Linked DNA regions of Homo sapiens. The protein of the gene in region 2 purifies or fractionates together with the protein of the main gene of each other region. This does not show direct contact. Each region holds a gene or a part of one and is shown on either strand. Other genes may lie near its edges.

Region 1 (3,500 bases), on a different chromosome or scaffold from region 2:
GAACCGGGAGGCGGAGGTTGCAGTGAGCCAAGATCACGCCACTGTACTCCAGCCTGGGGAATAGAGAGCGAGACTCAGTTTAAAAAAAAAAAAATACATAAAGTGAAAATTCTTTGAATGAGGGGTTTCACAGGTTCCCAGAATGACGTGATTTTATAGCCCATCTTTCCCTTTATAGTGTGGATTCTTTGACAGAGCCAGACCTCCTCAGGAGGACATGACCGACAGGGAACAGCTGACAAATGACAAGACCCCTGAGGCATGACAAGAAAAAAAAAGAAGACCAAAGACCTCAAACACTGGTCCTGTTCAAAGAAAAAGAAAGAACATGAGGGTTAAAAATCAAAGCTTTCTGATACCTGACAGTGACCCAGGAAATGGAGGGGACCCTGGAAACATCACCTCATCTACACCGCACTTTGGAGAAATTGTCCTGGGTGCCCAGTGAGCCCTGTTGGAAAAGGAAACACCAAAGCTGGAGAAGCCATCAGCAATTGTGGAAGATTTTCTTTTGCTTTAATCGTTCTGTACTTGGCAGACACTTTGAAATGCGTATGGGAACGTAAGTTGCAGTCCAGATCAATCCAGCATAAGTTGCAGAGATGAAATGTCTGAATCACTATAGAATTTACAAGGTGAACTAAGGTGAAATGACTGATTTACTATAGAACTTAGAACTAAGACCACACCATCCAACACTACTGTATCCAATGGAACATTTGACACCTCCCTATGGAAAAGAAACATTTCTAAGGACATTATGGCTCAGGGAGACAAGCAATATGTTGTTGGTACTGTGAAAGTACTTTTGAAAGGACAAAAATAATCTTGTGAGTGAGGGTGAGAGTTTATTTATTTATTTTCCATGTCTCTAGGTTGAGAATCTGTCATCTAGAGAATTTGGAAATTAAGATTTGGTTAGCTAGTTTTCAAAATCACTCACTCAGTTTCCTCCTAAGAACCACTGTGTGCAGATAACTCATTTAGCAGAGCTTCTTCAGAATTTAGACAGTGCTAAGGAAAGGAAGATTGGCATTAGGAATCAGTTCTATTTAATACCTTGCTGCCTTCCATCTGAAATTCCTTTCACTCACATTATCCAGGGACTCACATCTGCTTAATTTAGCTTTGCAAGATGTTGCATTTATATTTCCTTGTATATCTTTCCATTGACTTAGTTAATACATGAATTTCGAGGTACTCTCTACCTTTGGAGTGTTTAAAAGTCATGGTAAAATGTCTAGAGTTCATTAATTAAAAAGCAATTTAACATTATGGGTAAACATTATTTTTAATATCTATAAGAAGCAACACTTCTTATAGATATTTAGCTTGGGATTAAATACCCGTTTTTCCTGCTATGCCTTGTACTTGTATACACAGAGAAAACATGTTGAATATAACTTAGACAAAAACATAAAATTATACAGGCATGAGCCAAACTGGGAAAACTGATTCCTAAAGATTTTTATTTAAAATTGCTTATTCCAACTTTATTACTTATTTTTACTGCTAATCTTTATAATATGTAACTTTGGAGAATAATCTTTTATTTAAGCTATTTTCCCATCATCTTGAATTTAACCATCACAAATTTTTTATGTTTAAAACTCTTGTAAATAATTCATAATCTTGTAATATTATCATTTTTGAAGTAAAATTGACCAGCCAAATTTATAGGTAGTCTGCACAATTTTGTATCCTTTTTTAATAATGAAAAATTACTATGAAGAAATACTGAACAAATTTTTATGTGCAATATTTTATAGACCTATGTATCTGAAGCATGTTTACACTGGCGTTTTTTTTTTTAATTAATTTCCTAAATGTTAAGTATGATAGAACAAGCTGACCCAAATCCTTAAGTTTACAAAGCTGTTGGAAAACTTTGTGTCCTGATTTCAACAATCACGCTTTGTTTGAAAGATGAGCCAAGCTCACAGACACTAAATTTTATGTCATGCCATAAGCTGGAGAGGAGCCATTTGGCTACAGCTGCGGAACTTCATTGAGGAGCAAATGAAAGGCACATGGACGAGCACGCTGGTGCAGTTCATGTTCTTCCTGCCTGTGAATTGAATACTGTCCTGGTAGCAGTTTCGGGTCGGTCAGGAGCTCAAGGCTGGTTTGTGTGGCTGACTACGGATGAGCACTGAAGTTGCCTCAAAGAATTAAGGGGTGTCCACACCAGCCTCTGGGGGTCTTTGGTGTTAGTCTTCCAGGTAGAGCTGGTTTTACAAGTAGGTGGCCATCTACAGGATGTGATGTGAGCGATGCCAGACAGCTCTCTCTGACCCCAGGTAATGCCCTGAATCTGGTGATCCTGGCTGATCTGTGACCAATAGAGATTAGCTCCTTGGGATTTGGGGTCCTAAAAGGTCCCTGAAAAAATGCACCCCTTGTCTTTAAGCCAACATTGGTGAAGGAACTGAGAACTCTTAGGGTTACATAAAAAAAGACCCCTGTTGAGATAGTTTATGCAGATACCTGGAAGGAACTAGAGATGCCAGGAGGAAGACTGAGACCCAGAATGAAGCAAGGCATGAGGGCTCCAAAGTGAACTGCACCATCCCAGAGTCTCAGCCAAGATGGCCCTTTCCTAGAGGGACGGGCACCTTCCACCTGCCCACAGGCACTGCTACCTATGGGAATTGCAGAAGGCCGTTGTACACACGCGCATGCACGCAGTGGCCCTCTGCCCTTTAGAATATGGAAGCAAAGTCTGGGTGCAGTGACTCACACTTGTAATCCCAACACTTTGGGAGGCCGAGACGGGCAGATCACCTGAGTTCAGGAGTTCAAGACCAGCCTGGCCAACGTGGCAAAACCCCATCTCTACTAAAAATACAAAAATTAGCTGGGCGTGGTGGCAGTCTCCTGTAATCCCAGCTACCTAGGAGGCTGAGGCAGAGAGAGAATCGCTTGAACCCAGGAGGCGGAGGTTGCAGTGAGCTGAGATCGCGCGACTGCACTCCAGCCTGGGCGACAGAGGGAAACTCTGTCTCAACAAAAAAATAAATAAAATAAAAAATAAAAAAAGAATATGGAAGCAAATGGAGAAAGGGAGGAAACTGAGGTCAGGCAAACCTTCCAGCAATCCGTTCTGCCCAGAGAACATACTGACGACAGAGAACACACTGAGCGTTATCTGCTTCTAGTTAGAGCATTGCCGATTGCCTTCATAATTCATAATGTGCTGTGCTCCTCTGAGGGTCTATCTGTATTTCTCTTCAAAGAATTCCCTTTTTAAATTCTTGCAGCTGGGTTTTAAGACACAATAATGGGGCAAATTAAGTTTTATAAACTTGGAGATTTTTATACAGTAAATAAAAAAATAATATGTACTAGTCACCCCTGAAACTGCATTCTTAGAACTCGACTCTTGTTTTATTTAAATACGTGCGTAGATATCTGTGAAGATTTTCATGTACCTATTTACCTTGTCACTAATAAAATTAAAACTGAAAGACTTGATGGCATACTTTCGGTTTATTTCACAT
Region 2 (3,852 bases):
ACCCCGTTCAAGCTACGCAGGCTCACCGCCACCTCCTGACCCCCCGCCACTCTTCTAAGCAAGGCCCGGGTTGCTGGTGTGAGGGCTCCAGGAGCGGCGGCAAAGTGAGTCTGCATGTCTGCAGGGCTCCCTCACGTGGGCGCGCACACAGTTCCTGGCCTGCTCCCTTTGCTTCTCAGCCCTCTGCACATTCAACACTGCCTGATTGGAGCCCGGGGCGTCTGACATCACAGCCTGGGCTCCGTGTGACCCCCATACTCTGCTCCTGGCCTCAAGAGGAACCCAGGGTGGCTAATAAGTAGCCAATAGAACTTGGTTTCTTCCTTTTTTTTTTTTTTTTTTTTTTTTTGAGATAGAGTCTCACTCTGTCACTCAGGCTGGAGTACAGTGGCACGATCTTGGCTCACTGAAACCTCCGCCTCCCAGGCTCATGCGATTCTCCTGCCTCAGCCTCCCGAGTAGCTGGGATTACAGGCATGCACCACCACCCCCAGCTAATTTTTGTATTTTTAGGAGAGACAAGGTTTCACCATGTTGGCCAGGCTGGTCTTGAACTCCTGACCTCAGGTGATCCACCTGCCTCAGACTCCTAGAGTGCTGGGATTACAGACGTGAGCCACTGTGCCCGGCCGGAACTTGGTTTCTTATTGTCTCTGCTGGGAACTGGTGCTGAGGGAGGAGGCCAAAGGTAAAATATGAGGAAGAGAAGACCCAGCTGGGTGGGCAGACCCTGAATCTCTGAGTGCTGGCGGCAGGGGCTCTAAACCCAAGAAGATGAAACGTCTGGGGGTGGAGGGGAAGCACAGGCTGTGCGTCTCTCTAAAGCTCAAGTCCACTGACTTTTTGAAACATCTTGCAAAGGCTTGGAGATTATGGTGGTGGACTCCTTGTCCCGCAGCTCTTAAAGACTGCCCAGAGAGGGCGGGAGACCACCAAGACCATGCTCTTCAGGGGGCAGAAGACAAGAGGCAGGAGGAAAGGAGGAGCTTGCTCCGAGCCAGACTGCTCTCCCTCCACAGCCACCAGTAGTTACTGCTTACCAGTAGTTACTGCTTCCTTGACAATGATGCTCCCTTCCTCTCCGGCCACTTCACTGTCTTGTGCTGGCCTCCTCTTCTCACTCAGGACTCCCTGCCTCCTCACCATCCCTGGCACCTCCATGTTGTCTAGGCCAGGGTGAGCAGACGCCTCTCTTCTCCATTTCTCACCCTAACAGTCCACACCCAGGATACAGCTCCCAAGATCTGGCAGCTTCCCCTCCACGTGTCCCCGCCATGCCACTCAGCTCCCATACACCCCTCGTCAACATCCCTGCAGGCTCTACTCTTGTGGAACCTGGAGAAAAAAAGTCCATTCTTGGTTTGCCCTTGAGATTCTTGTCATGCATTTGGATTCATGTCATGTATTTGAAGCCAACCTTCCCAAAACAACTCAAGAATAATATAAGATGAAAGACTCAAGGGCTGAAGAACATCAAATGAAAGGGTTTCAAGAACATTTTAAAAACATCTTAATATTTAGTGGATATCCTGGAAACTTTTCTTCCAAGCATATGTAGAAAAATAGCTCTGTGGGCTCTTTTAAAGTACTTGAACGCACTATCAATCACAGCCTTGTGGGTTGGCTTTCTCTTTGTAATCCTTAGGCCTTCTTGAGATACTGTAATTGCTCAATGATAGAACATGGTCCCTTGATGAATATATAATAATGTGGAAGACAGAGAGTGGATGGCAGGTTGGAGAGGAAGGAAGGTTTCAGCATCTTAGCAAGAGCTTGCTATGGCACCAGGATGGCACTGACACACCTCTGGGCCTGGGGAGGGATGCAGGTGACACCCACATCTAGCACACATTTGTGGCTGGGGAAAGAGGGATGCACCTATCAGGTTGTGACCATAGCGGGTCCCTGCTGCCAGGCAGGGGAGAATTGCTAAGTGAGGGAGGCCGCCCTGTGAGGTGTGAGGTTAAGGGCAAAGGCGGGTAGGTGCTGTCTCCAGCAGCTCTGCCCATTTCCTTCACTCCTCTCACAGCTGGGAGATGTGAGCAACACACTGCATTTTCCTGAAGGGAAGAGAGAAGTGGTTAATTCCAGGAGCCTCCTCCTCCATGAGCAATAGTCCCTTTTTCAGGTACATATGACTCTGGGGACTAGGCTGTCCCTGTGGGCAAAAAACAAATGCCCTTTTCTGAAGCATTAGGTTCTGAAATGAGAAGACTCTGACATGGCCACAGAAGGCAAGGAAAAGACAGCTTGTACCAATGGCCCCTGGCTAGTGTTCTGTGGTGTTTTGCTGTCCTCACCTCTTCTTCTCAATGTTCATAAACTTATCCTTTTGCTGTCTAAACTACTTCTCCCTCCAGGAACAATGATTTGCCAGCAGTAGTGCTGGGTGGCTCTTCTTTGTTCCTAAGGGTGCTGGTGCAGTCCTCTTTGGTGGTGATGACTTGAGGCTGAAGATACCAACCCGAGCTGATTGGTGCAGCTCAGAAGGATGTAGAAGCGCCTTCCACATGTCCCACTCCAGGGGTTCAGATAAGACTTCATGGTAGACTCTCACTAGCCCTTTCCTGATTGCTCCTGGAATCAGAAAAGTCTTTTCTCCTTCCTGAGGCTTCTCAATGCATAACACTTTTGTTCACACACCTCTGACCTGTGTCCCAGTCAGCTGTGTGCGCATCTTACCCTCCCTATAGACTGAGCTGTGTGGTGCTTCACTCCAGGGCCACATGCAGGGGGACCACAGTGGGAATGGTGCCTCTGGGTGGAGCAGTCCACAGCCTGTAGCCCTAACTCTGTGATCCCATCGCTAGCCCCCCATGATGCCCACCTGCAAATGGTCTACTGCAGGAAGGAGGGAGAGAGGTAGGAAAGAAAGAAAGAGGAAAATGAGGTCTGTCTCCAGCTTTGTGCTCAAAACATCCCAGAACATTGTTTTTGCTCTCCCCTGTTTCCCTTTAGAGCTTCAACTTTTCACTCATCACTTTCTCCCTCTGCTGCTAAGGGTAGCTGCATTGAGTCAGACCTTGAGCCACAGCTGCCAAGACATGACACTGACCTGGGGGGAAAGTGGGCCTTGAACTTGGTCTGGAACATCCTGGCCAGGATGACGAGCAGCAGCACCAGCAGCACACTGGTTGCCGTGAACGCCACAATCTTCCACGTGGTCAGGAGGGTCTCATGGGTGCTGGGCCACGTTTGCTCTGCATGAGGGAGAACAAAGCTGTACGTGAGGCTCCCAGACCATGAGAGGTGCCGAGGTTCCCCGTGGGCTCATTTGCTGGATTCATCTGGCACAAGAGATGCGTGCAAGGTGCCTCTGACCCCCAGGGCTCGGCAGAGATACCATGTGCCCCTGTAGCTCATGTAAATTGCATCAGGATCCACCCAACACTAAAAACCTGTCTCCAGCATGGGCTCTGCCAGGTTGCAGACCTGCATGCTCACATTCCAGTCCCAGGCGCAGGCCTGGCACAGGCTTAAATAATGCATCTGCCTCTTGAGAACAGAGGTGGGCATCTCTCTTGCCTGGAGAAGTTGCTCCGAAATGGACCAAGGGGTGGGGGAGTGGGAAGCTGGGCCCTTTGTGAATGTTCTGGGATATGCTGTGGGGTTGGGTAAAGCAAGAAACAGAGGGTAAAGGGGACCCCTGTTCCACAGCTCTCATGCCCTACCACCTCTAGCCATCAACTGCCTGCCAGGTCAGGGGCAGCAAGAGCAGACCTTTCCAGAAGAGACTTATCCTTTGGGCACAGGCCACCCTGTCTCTTAAATGTCTCTCTGCCTTGTCATGACCACCCTCTTAGACACTCTCTTTGCACTTCTCCCCCGGCTGGCTCACAGGATCATGTGTGC

Evidence for each region.
Region 1: the proteins of SUSD4 (region 2) and ITGA8 purify together in Homo sapiens (affinity purification with mass spectrometry; 3 studies listed by BioGRID and IntAct, with this or other methods). This does not show direct contact.

What each region holds. Positions count from the first base shown.
Region 1 is NC_000010.11:15,513,923-15,517,422, reverse strand, and holds the end of ITGA8 (integrin alpha-8 isoform 1 preproprotein), read left to right. Parts: intron 1-178; coding exon 179-265; 3' UTR 266-3,469; downstream 3,470-3,500. UniProt on the Homo sapiens protein: Integrin alpha-8/beta-1 functions in the genesis of kidney and probably of other organs by regulating the recruitment of mesenchymal cells into epithelial structures.
Region 2 is NC_000001.11:223,224,539-223,228,390, forward strand, and holds part of SUSD4 (sushi domain-containing protein 4 isoform a precursor), read right to left. Parts: intron 3,201-3,852; coding exon 3,056-3,200; intron 1-3,055. UniProt on the Homo sapiens protein: Acts as a complement inhibitor by disrupting the formation of the classical C3 convertase.